Homo sapiens: one gene and its partners. The protein of the gene in region 3 purifies or fractionates together with the protein of the main gene of each other region. This does not show direct contact. Each region holds a gene or a part of one and is shown on either strand. Other genes may lie near its edges.

What was found.
Region 1: the proteins of DHX57 (region 3) and SESN2 purify together in Homo sapiens (affinity purification with mass spectrometry; 2 studies listed by BioGRID and IntAct, with this or other methods). This does not show direct contact.
Region 2: the proteins of DHX57 (region 3) and TTLL12 purify together in Homo sapiens (affinity purification with mass spectrometry; 2 studies listed by BioGRID and IntAct, with this or other methods). This does not show direct contact.

The regions. Positions count from the first base shown.
Region 1 is NC_000001.11:28,262,395-28,266,142, forward strand, and holds part of SESN2 (sestrin-2), read left to right. Parts: intron 1-3,748. UniProt on the Homo sapiens protein: Functions as an intracellular leucine sensor that negatively regulates the mTORC1 signaling pathway through the GATOR complex. In absence of leucine, binds the GATOR subcomplex GATOR2 and prevents mTORC1 signaling.
Region 2 is NC_000022.11:43,166,535-43,170,282, reverse strand, and holds the end of TTLL12 (tubulin--tyrosine ligase-like protein 12), read left to right. Parts: intron 1-714; coding exon 715-783; intron 784-1,370; coding exon 1,371-1,509; intron 1,510-2,123; coding exon 2,124-2,275; 3' UTR 2,276-3,661; downstream 3,662-3,748. UniProt on the Homo sapiens protein: Negatively regulates post-translational modifications of tubulin, including detyrosination of the C-terminus and polyglutamylation of glutamate residues. Also, indirectly promotes histone H4 trimethylation at 'Lys-20' (H4K20me3).
Region 3 is NC_000002.12:38,855,285-38,859,032, reverse strand, and holds part of DHX57 (putative ATP-dependent RNA helicase DHX57), read left to right. Parts: intron 1-196; coding exon 197-372; intron 373-2,571; coding exon 2,572-2,693; intron 2,694-3,748. UniProt on the Homo sapiens protein: Probable ATP-binding RNA helicase.

The DNA of each region.
Region 1 (3,748 bases), on a different chromosome or scaffold from region 3:
CACTTTGGGAGGCCGAGGCAGATGGATTGCTTGAGCCCAGGAGTTCAAAACCAGCCTGAAACCCTGTCTCTACAAAATATACAAAAGTTAGCCAGGCGTGGTGGTGTGCGCCAGCTACTTCGAAGGCTGAGGTGGGAGGATTGCTTGAGCCTGGGAGGCGGAGGTTGCAGTGAACTGTGATCATGCCACTGCACTCCAGCCTGGGTGACAGAGCAAGAGTCTGTCTCAAAAAAAAAAAAAAAAAAAAAACCAGGCTGGGCGCGGTGGCTCGCACCTGTAATCCAAGCACTTTGGGAGGCCGAGGTAGGTGGATCACAAGGTCAGGAGATTGAGACCATTCTGGCTAATACGGTGAAACCCCGTCTCTACTAAAAATACAAAAAATTAACCCTGCGTGGTGGCACACGCCTGTACTCCCAGCTACTCCGGAGGCTGAGGTAGGAGAATTGCTTGAACCTGGGAGGCAGAGGTTGCAGTGAGCCGAGATCGCTTCACTGTACTCCAGCCTGGGTGACAGAGTGAGACTCCGTCTCAAAAAAAACAAAACAAAACAAACTTTCTCAGACATCATTTCTTCTTCAGGGAAGCCCTTCCTCCCCCACTAGATAAGTCCCCTTGCACACCCTCCTCCATTCCCTCCATTGTAGGAGCTTTGGTCCCAATTATGTGAAATAGTCCCTTGCTGGAGATACCCTGCAAGTCTCATCCCCAGCACTGCTCTTTGCACCTAATAAGTGTTCGTGACTAGTTGCCCCTTGCTGGCTTAGCTGACCCTTGTGAACTATTCCAGCCGTGGAGTCAGATCTGAATTGTGCCCATTTGGAAGAGGACCTTTCTGAGCCTCTCTGACCTGTTTCCGAAGAAGGGATTATAAGAACTGTTTCCCTCTGGGTGGTTGGGAGGAATTGGCACAATCAGATGTGTAAAGCACTTAGCGTGGTTCCCAGCTCATGATGGGCAGACAAGTGTATGGCACCACTCACTCACACCCCCTCCACCCTGCCCACTCCAAGGCTGGAGGTCCTGGGCTGCTTGGGCTGTATTTCCGTATCGTCTTCTCAGGCATAAACCCAGGAAAATATCTGAATTCAGCTGGGGGTGAGGGAAGGAGAAATAGTGTCTGTTCCTTCCCAGCTGGCAGAGTGGGTAACCAGGTGTCTGTAGCTGAGACCAGGGACTTACAGGCTCTATAAAGGATAATATAGGGTAACCGAGAATAAAGTCTGGGGCTTCTCCAAGAAGCCGATATGGGTAGTAGACAGAACCCTTGGAAGCCAGACTGAGCTGGGTTCAACTCTCCAAGGCTGGGGCTGCTTCCCAAAGCTGTTATTATGAAGTGGAATGGACCTTAGAAGCCAGGCAGCCGTGGGTTCAGATCTCAGATTGGCTACTTGTCAGCTGGTGCCTAACCTTTGAACCCTTAGTCTTGTGTGCAAAATAGAGACTCTGCCGCCGCCCCAAAACAGATGAAAATTAGATGGAACCTGTGTGCAAGTACCTGAGCTAATTTAAAAGTTAACATATAGTAAGTGCTTAAATTAGGATCCATGCCAGGCATGGTGGCTCATGCCTGTAATCCCAGCACTTTGGGAGGCTGAAGTGGGAAGATCGCTTGAGCCCAGGAGTTTGAGACCAGCCTTGGCAACACAGTGAGACCTCATCTCTATTTAAAAAAAAAAAAAAAAAAGGCCAGGCACGGTGGCTCAAACGCCCATAATCCCAGCATATTGGGAGGCCAAGGTGAGCAGGTTATGTCTCTACTAAAAATACAAAAATTAGCCGGGCTTGGTGGCGCATGCCTATACTCCCAGCTACTTAGGAGGCTGAGGCAGGAGAATTGCCTGAACTCAGGAGGCGGAGGTTGCAGTGAGCCAAGATCACGCAACTGCACTCCAGCCTGGGTGACAGAGCGAGACTCCATCTCAAAGAAAAAAAGAAAAAAAAAGAAAAAATTAGGAGCCAGGCACAGGTCTGGGGCCATTATCCTCTTTTTACAGTTTGTGTGAAGACCTTCATGTTGAATGACCACCTAAAGGGTTAACTTTAGTGTTCCTGTTGCCCCATGTGATCTGTTTAGTTGAAATTATAAAAATACCCAACACTGGTTCTCCCTCTGTCCCACACTAGCTGTTATTTTGGACAGGTGACCTGACCCCTCTGTGTTGCACTTTTCTTGTTCTGTTACGTGGAACTGGAATCATGCCTTTATCAGGTCTACTGAACCTGTACCATCCAATATGGTAACCCCTCACTACATGTGGCTATTTAAATTTAGATAAATTAAAATTAAATAAAATGAAAATTTTTTGTTGCATTTGTCACATTTCAAATGCTCAGCCACAGTGACTAGAGACTCACATTTCTTGGACAGTACAGATATAAAACATTCCATCATCGCAGAAAATTCTGTTGGACTGTGCTATGCTAGGCACTGGGGTAACAACAAAGAACTAGATTCAGTGTGTGCCCCCAAGTGTGACAGGTGCTGTGACTGGAGCTTCTCATTCTTGGTGAGTCCCAGATGCAGCAGCCTGGAGACTATTGAGACCTTGAGAAGTTTAGAGAATGGGGAATCATTTCTGCACTTGCAGAAACCTGGGTTGTATCCCAGCCCTGCTACTGCCTTCCTGCCTGAGTAGCCAGAAGTGAGTTGACCTCTCTGAGCCTTGTTCCTCATCTGTAAAATGGAAGCCCTAGTAGTAGCTTCTGCCCTAAAGTCCAGGTAGTGCATGTGAAATTAATGCTTAGCCAGTGGTAACCAGCCTTGTTATGCACCATTGTTATTACTGACTCCCCAGTCCAGGGAATTGGGCAGGGAGGGCTGACTTGGAGGGGTCATTTCTTGGCAGTGGTATGCTGCCCTGCCTGCTTCCTCTGTCAGGATCGGGGAAGCATTCAGGGTATTGGAGCCATGGATTCAAATCTACTTGGTTTTGCCTTCAGGGCTTTATACTCGCGTTCCCTCTGGCTGGAATGCTGGTCCCCCTAGTTTTTGGGGTGTGTGTTTGTTTGTTTTGAGACGGAGTTTCACTCTTGTTGCCCAGGCTGGAGTGCAATGGTGCGATCTCAGCTCACCACAACCTCCACCTCCTGGGTTCAAGCAATTCTCCTGCCTCAGCCCCCCGAGTAGCTGGGACTACAGGCATGCACCACCATGCCTGGCTAATTTTTTGTATTTTTAGTAGAGACGGGGTTTCTCCATGTTGGTCAGGCTGGTCTCGAACTCCCAACCTCTGGTGATCCGCCTGCCTCGGCCTCTCAAAGTGCTGGGATTTCAGGCGTGAGCCACTGCGCCCGGCCTGTTTGTTTTTTAAGAGAGGGTGTCCTGCTGTGTTGTCCAGACTGTTCTCAAATTCCTAGCCTCAGGTGATCCTCCACCACCAAGCCTTCCAAAGTACCGGGGTTACAGGTGTGAACCACCCCACTTAGGCCCCCTAGATCTTTACAGGCCTTGCTGTCTTCTCATCATTTAGATAACAGCTCAAAGACCACCTCCTCAATGGCTTCTCCTGTCTACTTACACTAAAATATTGCACACTCTCCCTCCCCATCATACAGTTACTGTTTATTTCACTCACTTTATAGAATCTGTGCTTTGAAATCCTGTTTATCAGATTCTGAATTATATGAAGGCCAAGGGCTTTGTCTTTTCACTGCTGTATTCTTGCTGCTTGCAATATAGCCATCAAAAATATTTGTTGAGTGAACAAATTAATTCTGTTTCCACCTAGAAAGCACTTAGCATAGT
Region 2 (3,748 bases), on a different chromosome or scaffold from region 3:
AGACCCCCCAGCAGGGCCCCAGGACATTGTTGGAAGTCGCCCTCAGGTTCTGAGCCCCTCCCTTCTGTACTGTGGGGGTCATCCCGGGAGTCCTCTCCTGGAGCTCTGTGCCTGGGGAGGTACGTCCAGCATGGCATGGATGGCGGGCTTCCATAGGGGCCTTTCCTGGCTTGTTCTTTTCTGGGAGAAACCTGAGCCGACTGCCACCTTCCTCGGGTGTGTTTTGGGTAAAGTCTTGAGGCCAGAAAGATCTTGCATCCCTCAAGCACTCTTGAGCTGGTGCTGAACCAGGGCACAGGCAGGTCCCGCGGCGGAGTCTTGAGCTCTGCCTCCTTCGCACTGTACTGAGCTGAGTGTGAGGATGGTGCCAGCCCAGGCCCTGCAGTTTCTGGAGCCCTCGATGTTCATTGTCTCGCGTGAGCCTCACAGCTGCGTGGCAAAGTCAGTTTACTGGGCAGAGCACATTTTCCCATTTCACAGAGGAGGAAACAGGCTCAGAGAAGTTAATCCGTTGGTCCAGAGTCACACAGTAAGACCTGGAGCCCAGACTCCATCTCCTGCCTCCTGTTTGGACCCTGAGGGTTCGGGGTTGGCTGCCTGCTCCTGGAACCCCCACCCAGTGTCAGAAGCTCCTGGTCCAGGCAGTAGCAGGCTGCCTGCTCCCGGCCCAGCGGAGGCCTGTACAGAGCGTGATGGGCCCTGTGTCTGTTGCAGGTGCACTGTGAAGAGTTCATCCCCGAGTTTGAGAAGCAATACCCAGAATTTCCCTGGACGGACGTCCAGGTAATTCCTGTCCTGCACACCATCGCAGGCCGGTGGGGCGGGTCCCGGGCTGGGGGCCTGCAGGAGCTGCTCCCTTCCCTCTCTGCTGGCATGGGCTGGGAGGGACCTTTGTCCCCTGCAGTTGGTCATTCTCCCCAGAGGCTGGCAAGACAGCGTGGGCTCCCCTCCCTTCCACCCTGGGCATTTGTGGGTGCTCCTGAGAGGGAGGGAGCTGGAGGGGCATGTGGGGCACCCCTGGGACAGCCAGAGGGTGGCGGCACTGCCTGACCCTAGATTCCCAGTCATATGGAGACGTTGGCTGGGCCTCCATGTCCAGCAGCGGCATTCTGGGTGCTGTGTTGAGCTCCTTGGGGCAGTGGGGAGCAACGGGGTCTGCGGCAGGAGATGGGCAGATTTGCAGAAGGTGGGCGTCAGGAGTAAGAGGGCAGGTGCTGGGCGGAGGTGGCCATGGTGAGGTCTAGAGACGTGAAGATGTGGGAGGGGGTGACTTGGGCCACGTGGGGCCCGGGACTTGGGCAGGGGCAGCAGACCCCCTCTTGAGAGGCTGTTCTGAGCAGGCCTCGTAACTCAGGCTCCCCGGTCCCCAGGCTGAGATCTTCCGGGCCTTCACGGAGCTGTTCCAGGTGGCCTGTGCCAAGCCACCACCCCTGGGCCTCTGCGACTACCCCTCATCCCGGGCCATGTATGCCGTCGACCTCATGCTGAAGTGGGACAACGGCCCAGATGGTAAGAGGGGCTCCCCATCTCCTGATCCAAACCAGCAGGCGCCCCCTCCGCCAGCCAGCCACAGCCTGGAGAAGGCAGGCAGCTGCCCCAGGCTGTCCTCTGGCTTGAATCAGCCAGGAATCTGGGTTGGGGAAAGCCCTGGCTTGGCCCACAGGAAGTGCCTGCGGTGCAGAGTCTGGAGGGGAAAGGCTGCGGGTTGGGCCTCTGAGTCGGGGGAGAGCTCACAGGACAGGAGACCCGTGTGAAAGGCACCCTGACCCCAACCCACACCACCCTGGCTGGCCTTCCCTGTGCCAGACCCCCACACAGTACACTGCTGCTGCATATCTACTTTTTTTTTTTTTTACTAAACTGAACATCCAAGCTTAAAGGGCCAGGCTGTCATCCCTAGGGCTGGAGGCAGCCCTGGCCTCTCCTAGAGAAGCAGATGTCAGGCCAGGCCTCCCCAGCAAAGTCAAGAGACCCAAGTTCTAGGCCCGGCCTTGTCCTGCTCATCCCCTGGGAATCAGGGCCCAGGTTCATGGCCTCCCAGCCTTTGCTGGATCCCCAGGCCACTGTCCCTGCAGAGTGGAGGCCAACGAGCCTTCACACTCTGCTGCGCTCTTTGCCATCAGGAAGGCGGGTGATGCAGCCGCAGATCCTGGAGGTGAACTTCAACCCCGACTGTGAGCGAGCCTGCAGGTACCACCCCACCTTCTTCAACGACGTCTTCAGCACCTTGTTTCTGGACCAGCCCGGTGGCTGCCACGTTACCTGCCTTGTCTAGGCACTCGCTGTCCCCAAAACCTGTGCTTGGGGCAGGATTCCAACCTCAGTTCTCTGAGCTGCTTCTGCAAAGGCCCCCATGTCCCTCCCCACACCGGCCCTGGGCATAGCCTCAGCCCCAGGCCTCTGTCCTGCCGAGCCATCCTCCCGGCGCCACACTCCGGGAGCACAGCATCCTCCTCTCACCTGTGGGTCAGAGCAGGACAGTGATGGTGTCCCCAGGGCTGAGCACCACCCCACGCCCTGCCCTCACCCCTCACCACCATCTGTGCACTGATGAGTCTCCAGTTTAGCCAAGGGCTTTGTTCCTGGCATGGAGAATTTGTTCCTGGCTGCTGTGTTTCCAGGGGGTGCTGGGGGAAGGGTTCCGTGGAGCGAGACAAGGTGTCCTCGGGAGCAGGGTTCCACCGGGAAGCGTTTGGGAGCCCTGTATCACACGGGGCAGGCGGGTTTCTCTTCCGGGGTCTCTGCTCTTATGCATCAGGACGACCCCGGGACGGCTGTGGGGCCCCACACTGCACCCACAGGGCTCTATGCGACAGGGGCCCAGGAACAGCCTGAGGCCACCACCCAGCAAGCCCGCCTTATCACCCATTCCAGCTCACCCAGAACCTTCACCAGCAAACCTCCTGCTGAGGTCCTGGCAGGAGGCCACCGTCTTGTTACCGTTTCCTTTTCGTTTGCTGAGGGTCACAGACCCCAACAGGGAAATCAGTATCTGTCTTCCCAGTGGTTGCCCTGCTCGCCGGGCACTCCACGGGGTCCCGCCCTTGTGTGAGATGGGCCAGGATCCTTCGGCAAGGGGCGCCTGGGGCTGGGGCTGATTGTGGGCGGTGGAGCGCCAGACAGAAAAGGATTCCAATGAGAACTTCAGGTTAAAGTCAGATGCCACCTACCAGGGTCTACAGTCAAAATGTTGGCTTTTTCTTATTTTTTAATGTATGGGAGAAAAATGTAAAATTCCAGTTCTTTTCTAATTGTGTTTCTGAAATTAGGAGTCAGCTGCCAGCGTTTTTGTGTGGCTGCAGTGTGCCTGGGCCCAGCTCACGGGCAGTGGGTGGACCTAACTGCCCAGGCAGGCGAGAGCTACTTCCAGAGCCTTCCAGTGCATGGGAGGGCAGGGCTAGGTGTAGCGGTGTCTCCTCTTTGAAATTAAGAACTATCTTTCTTGTAGCAAAGCTGCACCTGATGATGCTGCCTCTCCTCTCTGTGTTGTCTGGGCCCTTGTTTACAAGCACGCGTTACCCTTCCTGAGGGGAGCCATGCTCTAGCCCCTGGAGGGCCTGTTGCAGGGGCAGGGCGGGCCCGTCGCCTTTGGCAGCTCCTGGAGAGCTGTGGACATGCAGTCCCCCTCAGTTCGTGCTGCAATAAAGGCCATCTTCTCTTATTTCTGCCCTCCTTTCTCTTTGGACCCTGGAGCCACAGGCTCAGCCTGGCCTGTCGCCCCGGCTGTCACTGAAAAGCCCCGGATACC
Region 3 (3,748 bases):
GATAAAAGTTTATTTGAGGATGCATTTTAAGTTCTTTAGAAATAGAAATACTAGAAATGAATGAACTTACTTTATTCAAGTTTTCACTTTTTCTCCATTTTGACTTTTTGTTGTTGATACTCTGTTAGACAGCGACTTTCCCCTTTTGTTAAAGAAAGGGCTCCATACTGAAATGTTTTCTTTTATTTCCTTCAAGTTGAAAAAGCATCAGAATCTGAGGAGTCAGATGAGGATGACGGTCCTGCACCTGTTATAGTAGAGAATGAAAGCTATGTGAACCTTAAGAAAAAGATTTCCAAAAGATATGACTGGCAGGCAAAGTCAGTACATGCTGAAAATGGTAAAATCTGCAAGCAGTTCCGAATGAAACAGGTAGGGTATGCTGAGAGAATGAGTAACGTTGCCTCCCTAATATCTGGATGATGGGATTAGGAATTAGGGAGCTTTGGCTACCCTCCTTAAAATTCTTCTGGTTCTTTTTCTCCCTGAGTGGTCAAAGTTTCTACAGGCCACAGCAAACTTAAGTGCATATGCTAGATGGTTTTGGAAAATCCTATAGCTGGTACATAGCAAACACACACATATATGCCAAATAGTCTCAGAGTCATGTGCCTTTGGTACTGTGACAGACAATCTGGTATGTAAAAGGAATATCAATACTGTGGTTTACTGGCCGGGCACGGTGGCTCACACCTGTAATCCCAGCACTTTGGGATGCCAAGGTAGGCAGATCACCTGAGGTCAGGAGTTCAAGACCACCCTAGCCAACATGGCAAAACCCTGTCTCTACTAAAAATACAAAAATTAGCCGGGCGTGGTGGCAGGTGCCTGTAATCCCAGCCACTTGGGAGGCTGAGGCACAAGAATTGCTTGAACTTTGGTGGTGCAGGTTCCAGTGAGCCATGATTGCACCACTGTACTCCAGCCTGGGCAACAGAGCAAGACTCTGTCTCAAAAACAAAACAAAACAAAATAAAAACAAATACTGTGGTTTAGAGCCAGGCGGGCGTGGTAACACATGCCTGTAGTCTCAGCTACTTGGAAGGCTGAGGCAGGAGGATCACTTGAGACAATGCCAGCCTGGAAAACATAATGAGTCCCTGTCTCTAAAAACAAAACAAAACAAATACTGCGATTTACCTTAGAAAAAATTAATATATAAAAGGAGAAGGATAAGGAAGGACTTTTACCCTGTTTCAAAGACTCAAAGGATAAATAATGTGCCCAAGATCGCATAGCTAGTAAGTGGTTTAGCCAATTCTGTTTCTAAAGTCCATTTTGTTTTTACCCCATTCACATGAAGATTATTTTAAAAGAATTCATAAGTGAATCCTGAGGGCAAAGTTAGAGATAGGACAGAGGCAAGTTGCTTAACCAATATGGGAATTGGATTAAATGCTCTCTAGGCCCTCCAGTTCTAAAGTTCTGTGAGTCTGATTTTTGACACCATGTAACACCATCACATATGTAGTACAATACCCAAAGAACATCACAATGTATATAAATTGCACTGTAGGTAAGATGATAGAAACAAAAAATTAGATATTCAATTTGATCAGTGTGATAAGTTTATGATAAAATTATATGTAGGAAATAGCAAGTTCCTGTAAATTTATTACAGTATTCAAAAGTATAGCCAGAGTTTTAACAAACAAGGCAATTTTTATAGCATTGGCCATTAAATATGAAATTGATTTATATAGTTGTAGTGACTGCCCAAAAATAACCCTTTAGTGAGTGCTTTTCTATTATTGATTTAGGTAAAAATCTGATATTGCTTAGAGCTACGCTGTCTGATATGGTAGCCCCTACCCATGTTTGGCTGTTTATATTAATTAATTAAAATTAAAAATTCAGTTCCTCAGTAACACTATTCTTCACATTTCAGGTGCTCAATAGCCACATGTAGCCAGGTGTTGCTGTATTGGACAGCACAGGTATAGAACATTTCCATCAACACGGAAAGTTCTATTGGACAGTACTGGTATAGAGACTCTTGTTGGGAAGAACTGGATATGTGCTAAGCAAGAGGGCTTTATTTCACCCAGAAAATCTTTCGGTTTATTCAGATGTTGGAAAACTAATGTACAGATTCCACAACTCATTCTGGCTGATTCTCTGAGCAGCATTCTGAATAAAGTCTTCTACATCCAATCCCAACAAATCCAACAAAGGATCACTCAAGGCCAGGAGTGCAAGACCATCCAGGGCAACATAACAAGACTCTGTCTCTATAATTAAAAAAAAAAAAAAGCTGTAATCCCAGCACTTTGGGAGACCAAGGCAGGTGGATTCTTGAGCACAGGAGTTTGAGGCCAGCCTGGGCAACATGGTGAAGTCCTGTCTCTACAAAAAAATACAAAAAGCCGGGTATAGTGGCACACACCTGTAGTCCCAGCTACTTGGGAGCTTGAGGCGGGAGGATCGCTAGAGCCTGGGAAGTGCAGATTGGAGTGAGCCGTGATCGCACCACTGCACTCCAGCCTGGCAACAGAGTGAGACCCTGTCTCAAAAAAAAAAAAAAAAAAAGAAAAAGTAACCCAACTGATATCTTATCTTTGATTTTATTAGGCTTCCAGACAGTTCCAGTCCATTCTGCAAGAGAGGCAATCACTCCCTGCTTGGGAAGAAAGAGAAACCATTCTTAACTTATTGCGTAAGCACCAGGTGGTTGTCATAAGTGGTATGACTGGGTAAGAATGCAGTTTATTCATCTGTAGCTTTCATCTATAAATATTATATGCACCCTGGTTACCATAACCAGTTGAACTTGTTAAAAACTGTAGCTGGATTTATAGATATTATATACATCTGCCTTGAGACATAAGGCAAAAAAATCCAGCTGAAGACTTTTAACAAGGCTCATGTTTAAATTTAAAGGATAGTTCTAGAACATTTAGCTTGAGAGCTTTTTATCTTCTGAATTTATTCTGATTTCCTGTCACGCAGGCTGGAGTGCAGTGGCATGATCTCGGCTCACTGCAACCTTTGCCTCCTGGGTTCAAGTGATTCTCATGCCTCAGCCATCCGAGTAGCTGAGATGACAGGCGCACCACTGTGGTGCACCACCATACCCAACTAATTTTTGTGTGTTTTTAGTAGAGAGGGGTGTTTTACCATGTTGGCCAGGCTGGTCTCGAACTCCTGGCCTCAAGTGATCCGCCTGCCTCGGTCTCCCAAAGTGCTGGGATTACAGGTGTGAGTCACCACACCCAGCCTTTATTTTTCTTTTAAAAACAACTTAATTATGGTGCGTTATTTTTCCTGCTTTACATTCTCCTATTTAGCAGGGACAAATTGCAGACTTCATTTATTTATTCAAGAGTATACAATTTAATAATTATATTTGTGTCCAGACTCAGTGATATGGTAATAATTCGTACCTTCTAGTTTATCTTTTTAACCTCAGCCTAATCATAGCTAAATTAATACCTATAAAATATTTTGATAATCATAAGCTAATACTCCTTTTCTTTGGGGTTCATGTGTAGAGTTTACGTTCCTAGAAGCATTTACAGACCTTAATTTAATGTCTGTTCAATAGTCCCAATTTTACAAATGTTACTAAACTATTATTTGATTGTCCTTTTGATTGGAGTGCAAATTCCTAGAATTTCCCACCTCTTGGTAATAAGTCAGGAGGTTGTTTTAGAAAATACCTGAAACTGAACAACTTTTATTCTAATTAGCTTTATCACTTTTCTCATTCCATATGATTGCTTCTTTAGTTAACTAGCCCTTGAAAACT